2 linked regions of the Homo sapiens genome follow. The protein of the gene in region 1 interacts with the protein of each later gene in a biochemical or structural test. Each region holds a gene or a part of one and is shown on either strand. Other genes may lie near its edges.

Region 1 (12,590 bases):
TCTGTGTCAGGCAGGATTCTTGTTCTCATGGCACTCAGTCTACTTGGGAAGACAAAAAGGCTAAACAAGCAATAATAATTCAGTATAGTAGCTGGCAGGCACTACAAAAGCCCATAGCAAATACAAGGAGAGGACAAGAAGAGAAAACATCTCAGACGAGGCTCCACTGAATTTATGACCATGCTCTATAACACGTGCCTTAGGAACTGGCATGATTGGTTCTTCAACTACACTCCTCTTTTGTTTTTAAGCTGGGCTTTGGTATAGGACTGTTTCAAGAAAGAATATCATGGCAAAAAAAAAAAAACCTTTAAGTTTTAACTAATTTAAACCTAAGGATGAATAAGTTAGCCAGGCCAAAACAAAACAAAAGGAATAGTATATACCAAAACTTTTTCTGTAAAGGGCCTGATAGTAAGTATTTTAGACGTTGACCTATTGAGTTGCAATTACTCTCTTCTGCTGGATTTGGCCCACAGTCCACAGTTTGCCAATCCCTGGTATATACCTATTAAAGCAACTATTAAATATCTCTATATGCAACACAAAAATTATTGAAAAGGAACTGGGATCAAGTCATAAAGAACTATTTGGAATCATTCAAAAAACCGTCTAGGAGTTATTTACAATGCTTGTCAAAAGCACTGCCTAAAACATGAACACTGATTATGAAAACAGTTCAGTCTGACTGCGAAATAGTGGCAAGGTTTGGCTGCAGAACTGGGTTAGGAGGTTGTTTAACTATGACCTTATTTGCATATCAGAAAGATCACTATGGCTATATCATGGAAAAAGGTTTGAAGGGGGGAAAACTAGAGGCAAGAAGGCAGTTAAAAACCAGGGGAGAGGACAAACAAAATGTGACACATACATGGAATATATTTTATATACATACACACACACACACACACACACACACACACACACACACACATACACACACACACATATATACATACATGGAATGGAGTTATTCAGCCTTAAAAAGGAATAAAATTGGCCGGGTGTGGTGGCTCACACCTGTAATCCCAACACTTTGGGAGGCCGAGGCGGGAGGATCACCTGAGGTCAGGAGTTTGAGACCTGCCTTACCAACGTGGAGAAATCCCATCTCTAATAAAAATACAAAAATTAGCCAGGCGTGGTGGCGCACGCCTGTAATCCCAGCTACTTGGGAGGCTAAGACAGAAGAATTGCTTGAACCCGGGAGGCGGAGGTTGCGGTGAGCCAAGATGGCGCCACTGCACTCCAGCCTGGGCAACAAGTGCAAAACTCCGTCTCAAAAAAAAAAAAAAAAGAATAAAATTCTGAGATGTTATGATATGGAAGAACCTTGAAGACATCATGCTAAGTGAACTAAGCCAGCCACAAAAGAACAAATACTGTATGATTCCACTTATATTAGGTTCCTAGAGTAGTCAAATTCATAGAAAGTAGAATGGTGGGCCAGGCATGGTGGCTCATGCCTGTAATCCCAGAACTTTGGGAGGCCGAGGCTGGTTCACCTGAGGTCAGGAGTTTGAGACCAGCCTGGCCAACACGTTGAAACCCCGTCTGTACTAAAAATACAAAAATTAGCCAGACACGGTGGCGCATGCCTGTAATCCCAGCTACTCGGGAGGCTGAGGCAGGATAATCGCTTGAACCTGGGAGGTGAGGTTGCAGTGAGCCAAAATTGAGCCACTGCACTCCAGCCTGGGCACCAAATTGAGACTCTGTCTCAAAAAAAAAAATAAAACAAGCAAGCAAGCAGAATGGTTGTTTTGCCACAGGCTGTGGGGGAAGGGGCATGGGCAATGTTTAACTGACAGGGTTTAGGCTGGACATGGTGGCTCATGCCTGTAATCCCAACACTTCAGGAAGCTGAGGCAAGAAGAGTGCTTAAGCCCAGGAGTTAGAGATCATCCTGGGAAACATGGTGAGACCCCATCTCCATAAAAAATACAAAAATTAGCTGGGCATGGTGGCACACACACGTAGTCCCAGCTACTTGGGAGGCCAAAGTGGAAGAATCGCTTGAGTCCAGGAGGTAGAAGTTACAGTGAGCCAAGATCATGTCACTGTACTCCAACCACTCCAACCTGGGCTACAGAGTGAGACCTTATCTCAAAAGAAAACCCCCCCAAAAACAAACAAAAAAATTGGATACAGTTTAACTATATAGTGTATTATATACTGTTTATACAGTTAACACTGTATAGTGTTTAACTGATACCATTTTAGTTTGGGAAGATGTAAAGTTCTGGAAATGGATAGTGGTGATGACTGCACAACAACGTAATGTACTTAATGGCACTCAACTGTATGCTTTAAAATGATTAAAATGGTAAATTTTATGTTATGTATGTTTTCGCACAATTTGCAAAAAAAAAGGTTATCCAAACTAATTATTTAAACTAGTTTTTATAGGAAAACATTGTGCCAGTTTTACACCCTAAAAAAAAATAATAATAATCAGGTTGAGTCGAGTTCCATTTATAGTGATGCAAGTCTACTCCTGAGAATCCTTTAGGAATCACTGTTCTCTGCTCCTTTCTGGCTTTATGTCAGCCTCCCCTCTGGACTCCCATTTGCTGCACTGGCTAACCCAACATGTTTTCAAAGAGGTCACCAGTGATGCAGCATAGAGGTGAAAGAGGACTAAAGAAATGTGGACTCTCACACTGCACGAAAGAAAAAAATCCCTCCCCATTCAGTATCTTAAAAATCTTAATAATACTTTAAAAAAAATCAGACTATTGCACAGAACTCTAGATTTCAGGCTTCTCTTGAAGTCAGATCTAACAACTCTGACCCTGAATCCCACCCACATGGCAATAATTTATTACAATGGAGCACCAGCTGCACTCTTTAGAAAGGCAAGTGTTCTTGATTTGCTATAGTCCACACAGAGACTTTTACCTCAGTCAGGTCATCTTCCTGGTCCCAGTGTGTATGTTCCACAAGAAAAAACTGCTCTAATTCATCCGTGTATGCCCTCACATTGTTTTTCAAACAGTAGGCATCCCATAAGTAAATATCTACTGAACAGCACAAAGCATAATAGATTCCTTTCTTACCATTTCAGAAATAAATTGCGAAAGAGAAAGATAACTACCTCAATGTCATTAGCCATTAATCTCTTCAATAAAACTGTCTATTGCTTACTCAAGGCACTAATGTGAGAGTCACTAAGTTTATTGCCAAATTCAGGGTTTCCCAATTCCACCACAATGAGAATTCAATCTCTTAAGTAACAAGATGACACAAACACATGTACAATTCTGTCACAAATACCTCTCTTCACAGTTCCAGGGATGCTGCTGTTAGAAAAATTAAACTAATACTTTGGATCATTTTCAACCACTGCACAGCGTAATTTTAAATATGCAAACCTGATGAATTTAATCAGAATAAAAATCACATTAACATACAGACCCACCAAGAGAATAATCTTAAAATGTAGAATTGTAGATATTAACTTTCCAGGTAGTTAGAGAATTCAGTGAATATTTCCCATTTACTTCCACTCCAAGTAACTGCAGTTTTTACTACATTTCAAAAATAAGGTTTGATGAGAGAAGAAAAAAACTTTTTAAAGCAAGAGGACCTAGGCATAGTGGCTCACACCAGTAATCCTAGCATTTTGGGAGGCTGAGACGGGCGGAGTGCTTGAGCCCAGGAGTTCGAGACCAGCCTGGGCAACATGGTGAAATCCTGTCTCTACAAAAAATACAAAAAGGATCCAGGCATAGGGTTGCTCGCTTGTAGTCCCAGCTAAACCCGGGAGGCTGACATGGGAGGATCACCTGAGCCCAGGAGGTGGAGGTTGAAGAAAGCCAAGATCACATCATTGCACTCCAGGATGGAGCTACCCAGTGAGAGGTTGTCTCCAAAAAAGAAAAAAAAAAAATGCGGCTGGGTGCAGTGCCTCACACCTGTAATCCCAGCACTTTGGGAGGCCGAGGCAGGCAGATCATCTGAGATCAGGAGTTTGAGACCAGCCTGACCAACATGGTGAAACCCCTTCTCTACTAAAAATACAAAAATTAGCCGGGCTGTGGTGGCGCGTGCCTGTAATGCCAGCTACTGAGGAAGCTGAGGCGAGAGAATCGCTTGAACCCAGGAGGAGGAGGTTGCAGTGAGCCGAGACTGCGCCACTGCACTCTAGCCCGGGTGACAGAGGAGCTCCTGTTTCAAAAAAAAAAAAAAAAATGCTACAGGTGGTTGTGAAAAAATGGTCAACTGCCAGTAGGAGCTCCAAGCTCCAAGATGATACTGCATCTTAATATTTTTTTTTTTTTTGAGACAGGGTTTTGCTGTGTTGCCCAGGCTGGAGTGCAGTGGCACAATCTTAGCTCACTGCAACCTCCACCTCCTGGGCTCAAGCGATCCTCTCACCTCAGTCTCCCAAGTAGTTGGGACCACAGGTGTGAGCCAGCACACCCAGCTGTTTTTTTATTTTTTTGTAGAGATGGGATTTTGCTATGTTGCCCAGGCTGGTCTCAAAACTCCTGGGCTCACATAATCTGCCTGCCTTGGCCTCCCAAAGTGTTGGGACTACAGGCATGAGCCCCCTCATTTGGTCAACTGCATCTTAATCTTTTAAAATCATGAGGCAAAAGAGACATGGAAAAGCCATCACCACAACAGAGAAAGTACATCAAAGCCTAGAAGAACTGGTGATGTTGTTCTAGTAATCAGGCTTGTAACACAAGGAAAATAAAGTGTGAAATAACTTCAGGATGACAAACCAAACCATGAAATGCTTTAAATCAAATGTTTATTTTCCAAAACCAGCAGAGTGTCTAGCATTTCAGAGAAAATATCACCACATAATACATACCCTTAATGAATAAAGAAATGCATTGTAAAACGGTCTTGAGAAATGATACATCTCAACATTAAAAATATTTAAATTGAGTCTGGTGAGACTCCTGAGGGAGAAGCAAGTTACTTAACACTATATTGGTATGGCATCAATTCAATCTATCTGGAAAGGGCACTAAGAAGAGCTATAAAATTGGGCCGGGCACGGTGGCTCACGCCTGTAATCCCAACACTTTGGAGGGTGGATCACCTGAGGTCAGGAGTTTGAGACCAGCCTGGGCAACAAGGTGAAACTCCGCCTCTACTAAAAATACAAAAAAAATTAGCCGGGTGTGGTGGCGCACACCTGTAATCCCAGCTACTCGGGAGGCTGAGGCAGGAGACTCGAACCCTGGAGGCAGAGGTTGCAGTGAGCCGAGATTGCACCACTGCACTCCAACCTGGGTGACAGAGTGAGACTCCATCTCAAAAAAAAAAAAAAAAAAAAAAAAAGAGCTATAAAATAATTCATACTTCTGTATCTGGTGATTCTACTTTTAGACTTCTATCCCAAATGAATTCAAGGGAAAAAGAGGTAATACAAAGACACTAATAAAAACAGAAACAATCTGAATATGCATTGATATGGTTAAGCTTTGTGTCCTCACCCAAACCTCATCCTGAACTGTAATCCCCAGGTATTGAGGGACAGACTTGGTGGGAGGTGACTGGATCATGGGGGTGGCCCCCCATGCTGTTCTCATGATAGTGAGTGAGTTCTCTCCAGACCTGATGGTTTTATAAGGGCCTCTTCCTGCTTCACTCACACTCTCTCTCTCCTGCTGCCTTGTGAACAAGGTGCTTGCTTCCCCTTCGCCTTCCGCCATGATCATATTGCCTTCTGACATGATTGTAAGTTTCCTGAGGCCTCCCCAGCCATGTGGAACTAGGAGTCAATTAAACCTCTTTTCTTCATAAATTACCCGGTCTTAGGCAGTTTTTTTAGCAGTCTGAGAATGGACTAATATATGCATTAATATGGAAATGGCTAAATAATGACTATTGATATATTTACAAAAAGGAACAGTTTATACCGTAATACACAAATGTTTATTGGAAGTTATCTTGGATGAAAAAGAACACCAAGTATTTCTATATATTATATACAATGTAAGGAAACAGGCATTGGGATTATTAGCAAGAACTGCCTGGAGTTATTCTAAATGCTGCCTAAGAATTATTTACATTGCCTGTCAAAATGTATTATCTAACACATGGGCATTAGTTATAATCATATACAGAAACACACGTCCATTACAAATGGAAAATAACATATAATTTTAAATTTTTAATAATTATATTGTTTCATAAAATTACTTAATTGCCTAGTTAAAAAATATCCAGCTCTCTCTGTTCCCAGGCCCAAACTCCAACTTCTACTTCTTCTACTTAGAATCACAGGATTTCAGAGCAAGGAAGAAATATCTCCTTTCATATATACATATATATTTATTTTGAGATGGAGTCTCACTCTGTCACCCAGGCTGGAGTGCAGTGGCACCATCTCAGCTCACTGGAACCTCCGCCTCCCGGGTTCAAGCGATTCTCCTGTTTCAGCCTCCCGAGTAGCTGGGATTATAGGCGCATGCCGCCACGCCCGGCTACTTTTTCGTATTTCAGTAGAGACGGGATTTCACCATGTTGACCAGTCTGGTCTCGAACTCCTGAGCTCAGGCAATCCACCCGCCTCGGCTTCCCAAAGTGCTAGAATTACAGGCATGAGCCACTGCGCCCGACCTCCTTTCCCATATTTTAAAGATACAGAGAGGTTAAGTAATTTGGCCATAATGATCTAACTACTTGCTAGGATTAGATACCAATTTTTCCACTGTTTTTTTCCTCAAATATCAGTGCCAACAGAAAAAGAAACAGAATTTAGCAACAGAGGACTACACATGGAGGAAACACAAAGAAAAAGTAATCTATAGCTTTGTAATTCACATAATGTTTAAAAGACAGTCTGAAGTGTTTTTCTCATAAAATTTTATAAAAATGATTGTGTTCTCTAGAGAGAAGGAAGAGGATAAGGGGGGGGAACCACTCAGGATTAGAGAAAAAAAGTCACTGTACATATCTCATATAATCAACACTTGTCATTCTCAAAGCTCAAGACTGGTTCAAGATTACACCCTATGAAATACAAAACAAAACCCAAAAAGCAGTTTCAACATCTCTTACCTGTACAGAGAAGTCCATCTTTGTAGTAAAGTGCATACACTCTGGCACTGTGTCCAATTAATGACGAGGTTTCAAAGGCTTCATGGTCCTCCAGTTGCTTCATTCTCAAAATAGCCTTCAAATAAACCTTCTTCCAGTGCAAAGCGTCCTGAACAGAATCATCTATCTGCCAGCCCAAATTTTTACATGCAGTCTGCCACACCTCTGTACAGGCACTTATCACCTTATTCCACTGTTTAGAGACGAGGCAGCATGTGAGTAAAGTCTGAGGATCGAGCCATTTTAACAAATAAAAACTGAGCTCCAGGGGAAGGAGTTTGAGGAAGTCCCGCTTGAGGAGAGTCTCTAGGTTATTGGAGAGATGCCTGAGCTGGACTGCCCCACTCAGACTAATCAGGTGATCCAGAGTTTCATTTTTCTGCAAGTCCGTCAGAGAAAGAAATGTAACAGAAATGTTATCAAGCCATGTCTCAAAGTCCTTTCTCTCCATAAGGTTATGGAAAAATTTACCTGTGGCACATCAAAATATTGTATTAGTTCTGCTCAAAAAGACTGTTCAAGCAAGACTGCTAACAAATGAAGTATTAAAAATTAGTGTAAAAAATCTGCCATTACAACTTTATGCGTAGTTACATTACAACTTTACAGTTAATACACCATATTTATCTGAACACTTTCCATGCACACAAAAGAAAACACATTTGAGAAAACATACTTTAACAAATCATGAATCCAAAACATGTCAGTGAAACAGACTGGCGTGTGTGACTTATTCCTCTTGAAGTCTAGCACGTGCTACATGCATCTTCATAGTAATAGATTTACCAACAATTCATTATAAAACAGTATATTTTACAATACACCCTTCCCCCATCAAAACCATTATAAAACAATTTCCTTAATGAATTCCTTAATACATTCTATTTGGGTACTAAAATCACAAAAGCAAGCACCAGGATGTGACAATCAGAAACAGTCTCCTGAGCAGTAACCTGAGACACTGATTGTCATGGCAGGCACAACCTGTCACCAAAATCATAGAACTGACTACTTGGTTTTGCAACAGATGTTCAGATGAAAAGGTTTAGGGAAGAAAAGCAGGTGTGGTAAGTTATCTGCCTCAGGAATTCTGGTTCTTCCAACTTCTTTATGGCACTGCCTGTTTAGAACATGAATTATAAAAGAACTTATGTGGCTTTAGTCTGTTTTTCTAAACCTCATATGAGCTAGTGACAACTCTTAACCACGTGCCCCCGAGAGCCATGAGGGGTCCTGGAGGCCTGCACAAATAAAGCAAATTAATAATCCTGATGTTTATAAAACACCAGAAAATAGACATTATCATCTTCACTTTGCAAATGAGGAAACTACAGGTTAGAGAAGGTATGTGATTTGCCTATATTCACAGGGCTACTAAATAGCCACAGAACAGACTGGACGCCAGTGCTCTCAAGATCAGGTACCAAGCTCTCTCTCTAAAATAAGTGACAACCAGGAGAACCACGACCAAGTGGTAAGATCTGGAGGTAGTGTGTCTACCCGTTAGACCATTTTCTCCTTTAGGAGAATGACAAATTGCTCCTGAGCTAACTGTAACAAATAATTTTTTTTAAAGTATCCTGTATTAGTGTCAACAGGTGTTAATTCACTCTTAATGAGGATTAGACTAATGAAAGATTACAAAAAATATAACCAGTAAAAACTATCTTTCTCAAGACTATGTGTTGATAGATGTTAATGCTGGGTGATGTGTACATAGGGATTTATTATTCTCTTTATTTCCATATATTTAAATATTTCCATGGTTTAATAAAAACTTTCCTTCTGAATACTCAGTTTCTCACAAGACTGTCATATTAATTTTAAAAACATATGTCCAAATTAATGTGAAAAAGGAAAGTTAATTTCTTTCCAGACATATCACCTAGATCAGGTCTACACAAAAAGCAAGATCTCATCTTTCAACTTTGATAATGTAAGGTGAGTAAAATTGTAAGTGTCCAATATCAAATTTGGCAATAACATTCTTAGACAAATAAGCAATCTGATTTATTAGTAGAAGCAACCAAACCTTGCAATCACATCATCTGCTAACAGTTTTGATTTCTGGAACTGTGACTAGACTTCAAGATAATACGTTTCAAGCCAAAGTTTGGGCTAGAGAAGATTTATTAATCTGTATTAAAAATTTACCTAGCTGACAAAAAATAATCAGATGGCTAAAAGTTTTATCGACTTATCACGCAATAACAAGCCCCCTCCTTCCTCTAAATCCTAACAACCCTCTTATCTATACAACATTTCTTCAAAATCTCTACTTCTAAAAAATAATAATTTGCAACAAGACAAAGCAATTATCTTCTGTGGGCATCTGCATATTGTCACAATAGCTAGTTAATTAATACTGGTCAATTAAAAACACACACCAGGCTGGGCACAGTGGCTCACGCCTGTAATCACAGCACTTTGTGAGACTGAGGTGGGCTCGGCCGGATCACGAGGTCAGGAGATCGAGATCATCCTGGCTAACACAGTGAAACCCCATCTCTACTAAAAATACAAAAAATTCCCCTGGCATGGTGGTGGGTGCCTGTAGTCCCAGCTAGTCGGGAGGCTGAGGCAGGAGAATGGCGTGAACCCAGGAGGCGGAGCTTGCAGTGAGCCGAGATCACGCCACTGCACTCCAGCCGGGGCGAGAGAGCAAGACTCCATCTCAAAAAAGAAAAAAAAGAAAAAAAACCACACACCTGCTCCTGAAACATTTTTAACAGTGAAAAGTGTGGTGTGGCAAGCTTCCTCCATCACATCTACACATACATATATACACACATACATACACATGCTGACACACATCTATTGTAGAAATGCTTGTATTTAAGTGAGCTGAACTGTTATTCAAACGGCTACAAGGCAAATTTAGAATACTCATTAAAATATTATCAGGTTCCCATCATTCACAAATATCTAAGAGACATACTATAATATGCCAAATTCACATGTATACCTATGTAACAAACCTGCACGTTGTGCACATGTACCCTAGAACTTAAATTTAAAAAAAAAATGCCAAATTAATGTGCCCATGACACCGCTAAAGATTACGGAAGAAGCTTTTTCAGAGAGCACATCTAAAAAAATTCAGCCATGTCTCAGATTTATATATTCTCCTAACTCTTAATAAAAAAAATTTTCCCAACTCTTAGATTGCCTTTTAAACCACTCAATCCCTTGTAAGATTGAGCAGTTCACCTCTGATTATTCTGAAAAAGGCATTTTTTTCCCTAAAAAAGCAAGTCTCACTAACTGCAGAATGCACTATTTAAAAAACACCAATTTTTACTTTTCTGAACAGATCAACTAACTTTGGAGGGGGCCTTCTAAGGTAACAGGTCTAAACTGGACTCTTTTAGGCAGCCTCTAGAAATATCATACACTGGTTGCACAAACCTCAGGAAATGGGATTTCAATTCAACATGAGGAGCTTTTAAATCTCAGCGCTTTCCAACAATGGAATAGCTACCTCCAGAGTAGTGAGTTTCCCATTACCACGAACAGTCAAGGACAGTTGGACACAGAGGCAGAATGTGATAAATGAAAATACTTTGGAGGTTGGCCAGATGTTTTACTGATTCAGCCACTTCCTATGTGATTATGGGCATGTCCAACTAACTTTTAAGCTTCAGTTTTATCATCTGTAAAATGGAAGCCATCATCCAACTTGAAGGGTGAAACTCAGAAATATAGCAGGGACATGCTTAGCACAGTGTACAGTCTAGCGGGTAAAAACTCAAATGGTACTTTTTGTTAGTTTTACTACTATGAACACCTGGCAGTAAAGATTTCTGTGACACTAAGGGTGGAATGGACATGACCACTAACATCTCTTTTGACCCTATCATCTTATCACTAAGTTTCTCTTCAAAATACCTGGAAGAAAAACTCAAGGGCTCAAACTTACTAGGGGTTTAATTTTATAAAGAAGAGCACCTGTTTATTGGAGGCTCTAGTTTCCCAGTAGGTGCCTTATTCTACCCACATTCCCTGCTGTTTGGCCCCCTTACCCTACGTCCCTACCCCAGAGTTAACATTCAACTTGCCCTCTTGCCTTCAGTATCAATAATCACAAAGTGGGTCATGCAACAAAAAGACTCCTAAATTGGAAAATGAGAGCCTGGGTTTGGTCTCAGGTTCTGCCATTAACTCCCTATGTTACCTAGGCAACTCACATATTTATATTGGTTTTAAAGAAAAAGTACCACTGGTAAACATTATCTCATTTCATCTTCATAACCTCATGGAAGGTATCAGTAATGCCGCCCTTAACTAACATTAATGAGGAAATTTACGGCTCAAGAAGTGGAGTGGCCTTCCCAGAATGGCACAGGAAGTAGCAGGCTCAATATTTTGCCCAGTACCCATTCTCCCAAAACCTATACTCAGAGGTATTAGAGACAGGACCTTCTGGAAAACAGTGTAAATGTGTTTTCCCCTCCTCCTCTATCAGAACCTGGCCTAGTCAAGAGTGAAAGCAACATAATTGTTAGTGGTAGAGGGAAGGAGGCTTCATTTCCCCCTTTTCTTATCAAACAAAGAGCACAGAGGCGCTGAAAATGTATACACACCTATAAACTTACATATGCATAAAATGTATTCTGAATATTCAAGAAACTGATAACCCTGGTTGCCTCCAGAGAGAACTGGAGAGCTGCAGAATAGGAATGAGGGGTCCCTTTTTATTGTATACCTTTTAAAACTGAAAACCATGTTAAGTATAATATACTATCAAAAAATAGCCTTTAGTTTTAAGGTGAATTTTTTTAAAGCTTTGAAAGAATACAAATAATGTTTATAAAATATGTGTTCTGCAACTCCACTTGTTGCTGGGTGACCTTGGGCAAATCACTTCACCTGTCTCATGCCCTGTTTCCTCACTTGTAAAATACAGCCAAGAGCATTACCTACAAGGGTTTTTATGAGGGTTAAACAAGACAGTGCAAGTAAAGCGTTTAGCACAGTACTCGGCACGCTGTAAGCCTACAGTAAATGTCAGTTACCATTATTACTTAGCATTAATATTGTTATCTTTGCTTTACTTCAAGCAGCACCCCACATACACACCTGTTTTCATGGCATACCCACAATTATGGCGCAGTATAGCGCTTTGTACTTCATAAACCACCTCATCACACTTCATCGTCTTTCAAACGTTTGGTAGCCCTGGGACATCACTGTTAACTCATTTCGCAGCTAAGGAAATGGAGGCAGTAGGAGGCAGTAACTCCAAAACCCTGTTTTCCCGTCTCTAAAATCCAGATCCCATCAACCCATTCGTTGCTCCCAGGTCCCTTGCTCTCGGAATCGTGTTCCGCGCGGCACTGACCTGAGCGAGCGCCCCGGGGCCCGGGACCTCGCGCCGGGTTCACAGCTACTAGGCACGCTCGGACCGCCAGAGCCTTGCAGCGGCCGGGTCCGCTCCGCAGCCATGGCGCCTGCAGGGAAAGAAAAACAGCCAAGGCGCGGCGGGTCAGCAGAGCCGCGGGCGCCTAAGAGTCCCCTCCCCGACC
Region 2 (12,590 bases), on another chromosome or scaffold:
GGAAAGCACCAAGATGGGCTACCACTATTGCTGTTTCTGTTATTACACATTGCCTGTGGTCAAGTGGTCACCTGCTCTATAACAGAGAACATACTCAGCTGAGGTTCTAAGTTTCTTTCTTTTATCGTTTTTTGTTTGTTTGTTTAGAGATAGGGTCTTGCTGTTAACCAAGCTGGAGTGCAGTGGTGCAATCATAGCTCACTGTAACCTTGAACTCCTGGACTCAAGTGATTCTCCAGCCCCAGCCACCCAAGTAGCTAGGACTACAGGCATGCACCACCATGCCCAGCTAATTTTTAAGTTTTTGTAGAGATGGGGTCTCGCTATGTTGCCCAGGCTGGTCTGAAGCTCCTAGCCTCAAGTGATCCTCTCACCTTGGACTCCCAAAGCACTAGGATTACAGGCATGAGCCACCATGCCCAACCTAGCTAGGGTTCTAAGTTTTGGAAGCAGGTAAAGTGGAAGAAGGTTCCAGAGGACAGTTGATCAAAAGCATTAGAAAAACTGGAAATGCTATGTGCCCTGGTTTAAGCCCCAGCTATACCACTTCCTAGCTATATGACCTTAAACAGATAATTTCACCTCTGTAAGCCTCAGTTCCTCATCTGTAAGATGGAGATCCTCCTACTATAATATATGTTAGTTATTTTATAAAATGAAAAAAAAAAAGGTTTACTGTCCTTATTGCAGAGTATTCAAGTCCTAAGTACTTTACTGAGCCAGAAGAACTTCCTGATTTCATAGCTCCCTCATCTGAACTCTCAGGGCAATGCCACCTACTTTAGTCCTTAATAAGAACCACCAATATTAGAATGCTTGGTATGCACCAGGCATTTTACTTATTTGAGGATTAAATCACAAAATCTGAGATTAGCATGATTATCATTTTACAAAGGAAAGGAAAGTACTGAGAGGCTAAATGAGCCATCCAAGGTCACACAGCGAAGTAACAGGACAGAATTTGAACTCAGGGCTGGTTCTAAATCCTATGCTTTATATATCACCCCATGGAACCTGACCTCAAGGGCGTTTATTTCTTTCTTTGTGGGTAGAGAGTTGCATGTGCCTTTCTATGCTTTTATAGGTAAGGAACTCCAAGTTCCTGAAGAACAGAGATGGTGTTCGACAGTGTAGACCTTCAGTCAATATTAAATGAATCAGTAAATAGATGAATGAATCGATGCTTTGAGATTTCACCTCTGTCCTTGAGCACAGCCCTTTAGTGGCACCTAGGTAATCCAAGATCAAAAGCTTTAGAAGTTGAAGCAAGTGACAAAATCACTATAGCAAAACATGTTCTCTCTCCCCTCTAGCTGTAGCACACTCACAAGAAGAGAGGTAAATGAGACAAACTATGAGTCCTACTTCCCTTTCCCACCAGGCCCTAGACTTCCTCAAGCTATGGCATCCCATTGTTGCCTATTATTTATTGCTGGTGCCAAGGAGTACTTCCTCTCTGGTTGGCTTCCTCTCTGGTCATTGGCCAGATGACTGCTGCGTTCCAGGATGGCCATAAAGCTTTTGCCAATTCCTGCCAAGGAGTCTAGCTCCTTCCTCCCAGGCCCAGGCTCTACCAGGAGGGCCTCCTTGAATGATGGGTCCCAAGAGCCAGACAGAACGGACTTCCTCCCTTATGCCTCATCAAGTTAGAGAGAGAAGAGCTCACATCCCCCAAATGCCTATGAACACATAACTCTACTGATTCCTGACCTGACCTGCCTTGGCCTCAAGAGGGCCAAATGCTCAATTCCTTGAGTTCAAATCTTTTTCCCTGTATTTTCTCACCTGTGGGGTCCACCTCTGTCCCTCTGACTCACAGAATGTGACTGCCCCCCTCCTTCTTATGATAGTCCTTCAGAGGTCTGAAGACAGAAAGCATATCTTCCTTGAGTCTTCTCTAAGTTGAATACTCCCAATCACCCCAAACAGAGTAGTGCAGTGCAGGAAAAGTATAGTTTTGTGATCAGAGTTGTATTCAAAATTCCATATCACAACTTACTAACTACATGACCTAGAGTATGTTCTTTCACCTCACAGAGGCAGGAGCATTGTGAGGATTAAAGCGCCTAGCCAGGAATAGGCCATAGTATGTGCTCAATAAATGATACTTCTCAAGATAACAATGATGAGAAGTCATGGACTTCTTGGTTTCCAAGTCTCCCAAAGGCTTTGTTTTGGAAGCAGTAGCATTCAGAACTAGCATACCAATCTGCCCAGGGTTCCCTACTATCTGGGGTTCCCTACTATCTGGACTTCCCTCAAATCCACACCCACAGCACACAAACCAAACCAACACTAACAAAAAACTACCAGGCATTGAGGTTTTTTGAAGTTAATAAACCTCTTTGTTCAAGAATTTTTCTGCCCCCACTAGGCTCCAAATCATGCCTTCCTCATCCTCCACAGCCATCCCCCTGCAATGCACATATACAAAGCCCCCAGTGTTGAGGGTAGAGGATGGCGTCATCTGGTTTGGGATGGGGAATTAGTAGAATCAGGGCTCTTGGAAGGAGTATAGGTAAATGTCAAAGGAGCCTCTGGCTCCCAGCTGGTCTGTAAAATCTGCACTGACTAACCGCTTCCCTCTCTAATAGCTGCTACCCAGAATGATACTGCTGTCTAAAGCAAAGGGCCCAAAAGCCTATGTGTTCTATGGACACTTCCTCCCTTTTGTCTTAGAGACAGTAAAAAGCCTGTCAAGGAAGAGATGATCCCCCTGCCAGCTAGCCCTACCTCCTCACATATGCCAGCAGCTGATCATACTCAGGTGAGGCATTTCTCTCCTTTTTACAGAAAAGGATTGTCTGAAATCCCAATACTAGGAACAGAAATGGGAGAGAAAGAGAGATGGAATGCACAAATAAATGCCAGAGATAAATTTTCTGAGAGATAACCAGATTTGAGAAACAAGTTAGGCATTGTACAGATGAGAAACTGAGGCCCAAATAAGGGAAACGTTTGTATCACAGCGAATTAGTGATAGAGCCAACCCTACAGCCCAAGATTCATGACTTTCTATCCAGGCCCTTTTGACTTCACTAGGCTGTCCCTTTAAAAGTTCTCCAATATAACCTCCATGTGAAGAGAGAATGCAAAGCACAATTATAATTAGAATGCATTTAGTCATTCCAGACTAGCACCATAATCACTTGTGAGCTATGTGAATGTAAGCACATCACTTTAATTGTAGTAAACTTGTATTTAAATATTCCTCAGACTAATTTGTATTTTCACCAATTAAGTATCAATGATTACACTTTGCCATTCAAAGTAAAACAAACACAAAACAAACTCCAGAGAAGTAAGTTCCACCTAAATCTGAAGTTAGATATTCTGAGGATCATTAAGCCCATCTCCCAATTCTCCCAATTCTAGATTATTTTTCTTTACTTTTTTTTTTTTTTTTTAGAGACAGAGTCTTGCTCTGTCACCTAGGCTGGAGTACAGTGGCGTGATCATAGCTCACTGTAACCTTGAACTCCTGGGCTTGAGCAACCCTCCTGGCACAATCTCCTGAGTAGCTGGGACTATAGGTGTGCACCACCATGCCATGCTAATTTTTAAATTTTTTGTAGAGACAGGGTCTCGCTGTGTTACCCAGGCTGGTCTCGAGCCCCTGGGCTCAAGCAATCCTCCCATCTCAGTGTTAGGATTACAGACATGAGCCACCACATCACGTCAACTCCAGCTCAATTAATAATACAAGAAGCACAATGGTATTGGAAAGGGAGCTATCATTTATTACTTCTCTACCATATGCTGGATGCTTTCTTCCAGCTAACACTTTCTTTCCTATTTGTGTTTTCTTATCTTTCTCACCTATTTCGAATTTATCTTTTTGGATTGGACATCCTTATATGCCACTATAATCAGATTTTTGAGTAACAGGTAAGATACAAAACATAACACACTCACAAAAATCCTGTGAGGTAAGTATTAGATATTTCTCGGGGGGAGGGGATGAAGATACCAACCCAGAGAGTTCAATAATTTTCCCAGGGTCTAACTAGGAAAATGAGGATTTTGTGTCCTCATCTGTAAAACATGCCCATACTAATTCATGCACTCACAGAGCTTTGTGATAGTCAAATGCTTATCATAATACTTAGCATACACTGAGTCCTGGATAAATGTTAACTCTCATCTGTATTAGCCACAGACAATAATTTTCCCACTCTATGTAATAAGAACTCAGAAGGTGTACCCAAGCTGTCCTCAAATTTCTAGCCCTCTCCTACCCCTGTCTCCATTCTACTCTTGTCTTTTCTCTCACCAGTCAGAAGTATTCACAGGAATAGAATTAGCTTATTTGAACACTACCTCCTTCTTTTTTTCTTCCTCTCTCCAACCCTGGGGAAGTTCTCATATGGTAGAAGGACACAGAGAGCAAGGAAGAAAGGGAAGCAAGAGGGCCTGGAGAATCCATCAGGGTGATATGCAGCCTAACATCCTGGACAATAACTCAGACCTCCACTTCATCGGAGTCTGGTGGAGAAATAGGATAATGGCCTGTCTGGTGAGGTCCCAGCCTCTGGAAATGGGAGCCTCATTTTTGCTCCTAGAAGTCTGGCCACAGACGGCACATTCCCTTGAATGCTAAAAATGTCTGTAGCTGCCATCTGTTTATTATAGTATACAGTACATCCTTTCTGACAATAATGATTCACAATGAAGGGACACCCCTTGGGTTGGAGATGGGAATGACCTCTTCACTATGGCGAGTAAGCAATTATCTTCATGGCATGCCTGTAGGAGATGAAGCAGCCTCCTACTGCATCCATCAACTCCCATGTTGTCCTAAGTCCCAACATTCTTTTGAGAGAAATGTGCATAGAGCTTACTACCTCAGGGAGAGTAAGTTAGTTTCCTTCTACTAGGAAGCAAAAACATGGGACAGAGGCAGTGTGGTGCAGTGGCAACAATGTGGAGTGCAAATCCCAGCCAAATATCATTTGGGTGCAATTAAGTTATTTAACTTCTGAGCCTCATCATTAAAATGGAGAAGACATCACTTACATGTTTCAGAGTTAAAAGGAAGGCTCCATATGCTAAGATTTTTAAAGCATCTAGCATAGAATATACACCATTTTCTTTTCTCCCTTATTCAGGACCAAAGATAAAATTAATCAGGACCATAGGGTGCAGGCTGCCAAAGTTTAACTTTGCCTCCTTTCATATTAAGTCTGGAATCAGCCTTCATTTTGATCTATCTTGGAGTGAACAGGAAGAGAGATTCTTTGACAAGAGGCAAAAGTCATGGATTGTTGGCATTGTGGTGGAAGCTATTCAGAGAAGGAGAGGAGGCTAAGGAGTCTCCGCCTTACCTGGTCAAATAGCTGCTTCCCGGTGGTGTTGGGCTGGATGGCAAACTCCAGCTCTGCATCCATGGTGGTCACACGCACACTGATCTAGGATGAGATCAAAGGAAGCAGGTTAGTCATCTGGCTCTGTGTTCAACAGAGCCTGAGACAAGTGTCTCTGCTCAACCACAGAGGAAGGAGTTAGGATGCTAAGAGCCTGGGCAACTTAGATACTGATGGGGATGAAGGGAGAATATTGACCCAAACACAACCCCTGCTCCCAAGCAGCTTATTGAAGACAAACAACACAGCCACAGAGCAATACTTACCAAAGAACAGACAAGCATGAAGGCCGGGTGCAATGCCTCATGCCTGTAATCCCAGCACTTTGGGAGGCCGAGGTGGGTGGATTGCTTGAGGCCAGGAGTTCGAGACCAGCCTGGGTAACATGGCAAAACCCCATCTCTACTAAAAATACAAAAATTATCCGGGCATGGTGGTGCACACCTGTAGTTCAAGCTACTTGGGAGGCTGGGGTATGAGAATCACTGGAACCCAGAAGGTAGAGGTTGCAGTGAGCCGAGATCACACCACTGCACTCCAACCTGGGCAACAGAGCGAGACTTTGTCTCAAAAAAATTTTTAAAAAAGAATGCAGATCAGCCTACAACTAAGAGCAGGCAAATGATAACTGTACTTCTTCCAGGAAGGCCTTTCCATCTATACTAGACAGCTTCATCTCACAGGGTTCTCTTCTCACCTCTGATCTACCTGGATTATCTATAGCACTGGTAAACAATTGCAGAGGCAAATTAATATCAGGACAAAGAGCACTGGGTTCCACATGATAATCTAAAGGGCAGAAAAAGCTTTCAATAAAATCTAACACCCCTTCATGTTAAAAGTTCTCAATAAACTAGGTATTGAAGGAGCATACCTCAAAATAATAAGAGCCATCTGATAAAGCCACAACCAACATCATACTGAATGCGCCAAAGCTGGAAGCATTCCCTTTTAAAACCGACACAAGACAAGAATGCCCTCTCTCACCACTCATATTCAACATAGTATTAGAAGTCCTGGCCAGAGCAATCAGACCAGAGAAAGAAATAGAGGGCAACCAAGCAAGAGGAGAGGAAGTCAAACTATCCTTGTTTGCAGATGACATGATCCTATATCTAGAAAATCCAATAGTCTCGGCCCAAAAGCTCCTTAATCTGATAAATAACTTCAGCAAAGTCTCAGTGTACAAAAATCAACATACAAAAGTCACTAGCATTCGTATACACCAACAACAGTCAAGCCAAGAGCCAAATCAGGAAGGCAATCCCATTCAGAACTGCCACAAAAGAATAAATATCTAGGAATACTGTTAACTAGGGAAGCGAAAGATCTCTACAAGAAGAACTACAAATCACTGCTCAAAGAAATCAGATATGACACAAACAAATGGAGAAACAGTCCATGCTCATGAATAGGAAGAATCAATATTGTTAAAATGGTGATACTGCCCAAAGCAATTCATAGAATAGACTCAATGCTATTCCTATCAAACTACCAATGACATTCTTCACAGAACTAGGAAAAACTATTTTAAAATTCATATGGAAACAAAAAAACAGCCTGAATAACCATGGCAATCCTAAGCAAAAAGAACAAAGCTGGAGGCATCATGCTACCCAACTTCAAATGATACTAGAGGGCTCCAGTAACCAAAACAGCATTGTACTGGTACAAAAACAGACACAGAGACCAATGGAGCAGAATAGAGAGCCCAGAAATAAGGCCACACACCTACAACCATCTGATCTTTGACAAAGTCGACAAAAACAAGCAATGGAAAAAGGACTCCCAATTCAATAAACAGTGCTGGGATAACTGGTTAGCCATATGTAGAAGATTGAAACTGGACCCCATCCTTATCTCACATATAAAAATCAACTCTATATGTATTAAAGACTTAAATGTAAAAGTAATGTAAAACTCAAAATTATAAAAACCCTCAAAGAAAACCTACGTAATACCATTCTGAACATAGGAATGGACAAAGATTTCATAACAAAGACGCCAAAAGCAATTGCAACAAAAGCAAAAATTGACAAATGAGATCTAACTAAACTAAAGAGCTTCTGCACAGCAAAAGAAACTATCGAGTTAACAGGCAACCTACGGAACCAGAGAAAATATTTGCAAACTATGCAACTTACAAAGGTCTAATATCCAGCATCTATAAGGAACTTTAACAAATTTACAAGAAAAAAAACAACCCCATTAAAATGTGAGCAAAGGATATGAAGAGACACTTTTCAAAAGAAGACATACATGTGGCCAAGAAGCATATATAAAAAATTTACATCATTAGAGAAATGCAAATCAAAACCACAATGAGATACCATCTCACACAAGTCAGAATAGCTATTATTAAAAAATCAAAAAAAAATAATAACAGATGCTAGTGAGATTGCAAAGAAAAGGGAACCTTTATACACTGTTGGTGGGAGTGTAAATTAGTTCAACCATGGTAGAAAACAGTGTGGCAATTTCTCAAAGACCTGAAAACAAAACTACCATTCAACCCAGCAATATCATTATGGGGTATATATCCAAAGGAATATAAATCATTCTATCATAAAAATACATAAACGCGCATGTGCATTGAAGCACTATTCACAATAGCAATGACATGGAATCAACCTAAATGCCAGTCAATGGTAGACTGGATAAAGAAAATGTATGTTAGTATGCAGCCATAAAAAACAACAAGATCATGTCCTTTGCAGGAACATGAATGGAGTGGAGGTCATTATCCTTAGCAAACTAATGCAGGAACAGAAAATCAAATGCCAGACTGGGCATGGTAGCTCACACCTGTAATCCCAGCACTTTGGGAGGCCAAGATGGACGCATCCCTTGAGGCCAGGAGTTCAAGACCAGCCTGGACAATATAGCGAAACCCCATCTCTACTAAAAACACAAAAATTAGCCAGGCAAGGTGGTGCACACCTGTAATCCCAGCTACTTTGGTGGCTGAGGCACGAGAATCGCTTTAACCCGGGAGGCAGAGGTTGTAGAATACCACATGTTCTCACTTATAAGTGGGAATTAAATGATGAGAACACACAGACACATAGAAGGTGGAGGGTGGGAGGAGGGAGATGATCAGGAAAAAATATTTTAATAACTAATGGGTACTAGGCTTAATACCTGGGTGATAAAATGATCTGTACAATGAACCCCCATGACATGAGTTTACCTTATGACAAACCTGCACATGTACCCCTGAACTTAAAATAAAAATTAAAAACAAAGAAGAACACTGGATTCCAAGCCTAGCATGTAGCTGGTCAAATCTACAACCTTGGATAACTCCTGTCCTTTTCCTGGGCCTTAGTTTCCCTTACCTGTGCAAAGGCAGGAATGGGATGGAGGGCAGCCAATTAAACTAGATAAATGGTCCAAAGACCATTTCAGTGCTGATGTCGGTGGTTCTATATACTGCCTTGCATTGCTAATGCTTCCTATATTTATGTCTCATTGGCTTCCTTAGGCTCAAGAGGGGAAGGGGGCCTCAGTAGAGGTGGGTATGGGTGGCATAGAGGGGCTACCAAAGCCAACTCAGTGGGAGGACAAAGGTGCAGAAACAGGCCCAGACCAAAATAAGAGACAGCCACACACATGATTTCACGGGCACTAGAAAAAATACCACCTTTACAAATAGATCCTCGAAGCTAGGTCAATGATAGCTGAAATTTCATAATTAGAGATTTAGTCCTTTGGCTGAAAACTCAGTAGTAATGGTAGCAGTAGTAATAGTAACAGGCAGCAGCTTTCCTGTATCAAGACTTGCTACTCACCAGGCACTTCATATGTACTACCTCATTTAATATCAATAATCACCCTGTGAAGTAGAGTATTATCTCCACATTGGAGATAAAGAAATAGGTATTTGTCTAAAGTCACATTGCTATTAAGCAGGGGAGACAGGGTTTGAATCCAGGTCTAAATCCAAACCTCACAATGTAAACCAATATGCTAAATTCCTCTTACAGAGTACAAAAGTCTCCCATTAAAAGAAAAAAAAGATTGATTTTTAGTTGTTAGATATTTTGCTTAAATAATGTATATAGTACAGCCACAAAATGGCTTCTTATATGGTCATACAAAATCTTTATGAAGACTATTTCATGCTCACGGAAGACACTTTAGTAATATTGAGGAAATGTAAACAGTATTTCATAGAGTCCGTGAGCTCAACTTTGTAAAATGTATACATAGAAGGATGATTGGAATCTTGTCCAAGTATTAGTCAGGCTTGGTTTTGGGGTGGTGATCTTATGGGTGCTTTCTCCTTTCTTTAAACTAAAAAAAAAAAAAAAAAATCTAATCTACATTTTCTAAGTTGGTCACATACTGCTTATAGTATTGAGGGAAAGCACTAGATATAGTATTGCCAAAGATGCAAATTTCCATGGAGTGAGTAAGACATTAAACCTTATCAGTCTTTGAACCTCTAGGACTTTCCTGAACACACGGGTCAGGAGCAGGGAAGAGGGGGCCAGGCAGCTATTTTGCCAGATAAACAATTACGATGAGGATCAGGCCCAGAAAACAACTTTGTAAATAAATCTCGCTAGGGAGCCAAGGAGGAAATCTATTTTAGGATTGACAATGGGACAGGAAAGGCCCTGAAGGCAGGAACAAGTAAGGCAAGTACCCCAGTGGGAGTAAGGCAAGGTTAGCCACTTTGATTTGGTCCTACCCTAGGCTTCCTGCCAAGTCAGTGACCCCTACAGAATGGGCCGTCATAAAGTAGGATGGGGCCATTGGACTGGAATTTGAGGGGCACCATACTATATCCAGCCTCAAATCACCCTTGAGCTGGGTCAAGGGTGACCTCAAAACACCAATGACTGAAGGGACAGGAGAGAATAGAAAGGGGGCAGTGGGCTTTTTAGAATAATAGACTTCATTCTCAACTCAAAGTTTACGTCTTACTTAGAATTACCTTTCCAGTACTCAAGATTCAATGGGTACTCATGCAAGATGTTGGCTAAATGAATGGGTACCAAACAAGGGATATTGGAGATAGATACAGCATAATATACACATACAAAGATGGGGAAATTTGACATCTTGACTTTTTTGTGCCACGAATCATTCTTGCCTGTCTAGTGAAGCCTATGGACCCCTTCTTAGAATATTTGTAAATGCATGAAATAAAGTAGATACAATATAACAAAATTATATCGAAATATTTGAAATATAAATCAAAATTTAATAATATGTGCTTATTATCATATTAAGTAATTACCGAGCACTAGGTCTTATTAGTTAGTTATTGCCACTGTAATTTCAAACGTGTATTGAGCATAAATAATATTTTGAGAAATATACAATAACTAATTGTGATATAAAAATATGTATGTTAGGGGCCGGGTATGGTGTCTCACGCCTGTAATCCCAGCACTTTGGGAGGCCAAGGCGGGCGAATTACTTGAGGTCAGGAGTTCGAGACCAGCCTGGCCAACATGGTGAAACCCCATCTCTACTAAAAATACAAAAATTAGGCCAGGCGCGGTGGCTCACGCCTGTAATCCCAGCACTTTGGGAGGCCGAGGCAGGTGGATCACCTGATGTCTGGAGTTCAAGACCAGCTGACCAACATGGTGAAACCCCACCTCTACTAAAAATACAAAAAAATTAGCTGGGCGTGGTGGAGCATGCCTATAATCCCAGCTACTTGGGAGGCTGAGGTCGGAGAATCCCTTGAACCTGGGAGGCGGAGGTTGCAGCAAGTTGACATCGCGTCATTGCACTCCAGCCTGGGCAAAAAGAGCAAAACTCCATCTCAAAAAAATAATAATAATACAAAAATTAGCCGGGCATGGTGGTGCACGCCTGTAGTCCCAGCTACTCTGGAGGCTGAGGCAGGAGAATCGCTTGAACCCAGGAGGCAGAGGCTGCAGTGAGCCAAGATCACGTCACTGCACTCCAGCCTGGGCAAAAAGAGCAAAACTCCATCTCAAAAAAATAATAATAATACAAAAATTAGCCAGGCATGGTGGTGCACGCCTGTAGTCCCAGCTACTCTGGAGGCTGAGGCAGGAGAATCGCTTGAACCCAGGAGGCAGAGGCTGCAGTGAGCCGAGATCACGTCACTGCACTCCAGCCTGGGTGACAGAGCAAGACTTCATCTAAAAAAAAAAGTACATTAGATAGTTTCTGTATAAACTTCTATTATTAAGAAACCTTAAAAAAAGGGTAGAATCCAGGAAAACACTCCACAGCCTAAGAGTTGGTAACAAGGTCATGGGTACTGCTATTATTGCTGCCTTTATTTTATTTTTATTTTTATTTTTATTTGCCTACATTATAATTGAACAAATGGCTAAATTACAAAGGAGAGGTTGGTAAAAAACAAATAAGTAATTTTCCTCCATCCAAGTTCATATATCCTTCCCACTTCAAATTCTGTCCATGGACCCCATAGAGGTCTGAGGACCCCAGGTTAAGGAGCTTCCTATAAATTCATTTCAATTCACCCAATATTAATGGAACACAATGTTTAAGGAACTATGGTTGGAACAGACCAGTAGAACCGGTCCCTGATCTCAAGGCACTTACTGAAAAACACAAAAACTAAAATGTACAAGGGAGACCCTGAAAAGTGCCATAATAGAAGAACAGAGAAAACCTTTCGTGGAAATTAGGAACCACAGTTCAAAGTAGTGTTTGCACTGATTTCCAAAGAATAAGCTGGATTGTGGAAAAGAAAGACTGTGAGGGTAGGCACAAGAGCACTCAAATGTCCCAGGTAGAGAAAACAACATGTATGATGGCCCAGAAGGAGGCAAGGATGCAGATGGTCCCTTTAGAAGTCAGTCCTACTCCAGGGTGAATGAGGCCTGCAAAGTGAAGAGAGGGCAGAGTCTAGGAAGATAAGTGGAGGGCATTGAAGGCTATGCTAGAAGGTTGGGCCTTAATCCTGTTGGCAGTGGCCAGCCAGTCTAGAGGTTCTGGGCAGGGTGGGGCACAATCAGAACCAGGCTTTTTGGAAGAAAACACCCAGGAAGGAAACTAAGGGGGGGTGGGATTCCAGGGACATATCCTAAAGCCTAGGAGTTCCCTTTAATTCACAATATTGGAAATAATTTTCAAAGGAAGCAAGCCAGTGTCTCGAACAGATCATGTCAATTGTAGGTCATGCCAATCCAGCGTCTTCAGGGCACTGATCAAGGGTGAAGCCCAGTGCTGGCCCAAAGTACGTAATCAAATATTCGTTAAACAAAT

Evidence for each region.
Region 2: the proteins of FBXW2 (region 1) and MSN form a complex in vitro, tested with the Homo sapiens proteins (one study listed by BioGRID).

The regions. Positions count from the first base shown.
Region 1 is NC_000009.12:120,780,743-120,793,332, forward strand, and holds part of FBXW2 (F-box/WD repeat-containing protein 2), read right to left. Parts: exon of another isoform or gene 12,516-12,590; 5' UTR 12,407-12,515; exon of another isoform or gene 12,221-12,406; coding exon of another isoform or gene 12,145-12,220; intron 7,537-12,144; coding exon of another isoform or gene 7,517-7,536; coding exon 7,027-7,516; intron 1-7,026. UniProt on the Homo sapiens protein: Substrate-recognition component of the SCF (SKP1-CUL1-F-box protein)-type E3 ubiquitin ligase complex.
Region 2 is NC_000023.11:65,709,636-65,722,225, reverse strand, and holds part of MSN (moesin), read right to left. Parts: intron 5,409-12,590; coding exon 5,325-5,408; intron 1-5,324. UniProt on the Homo sapiens protein: Ezrin-radixin-moesin (ERM) family protein that connects the actin cytoskeleton to the plasma membrane and thereby regulates the structure and function of specific domains of the cell cortex.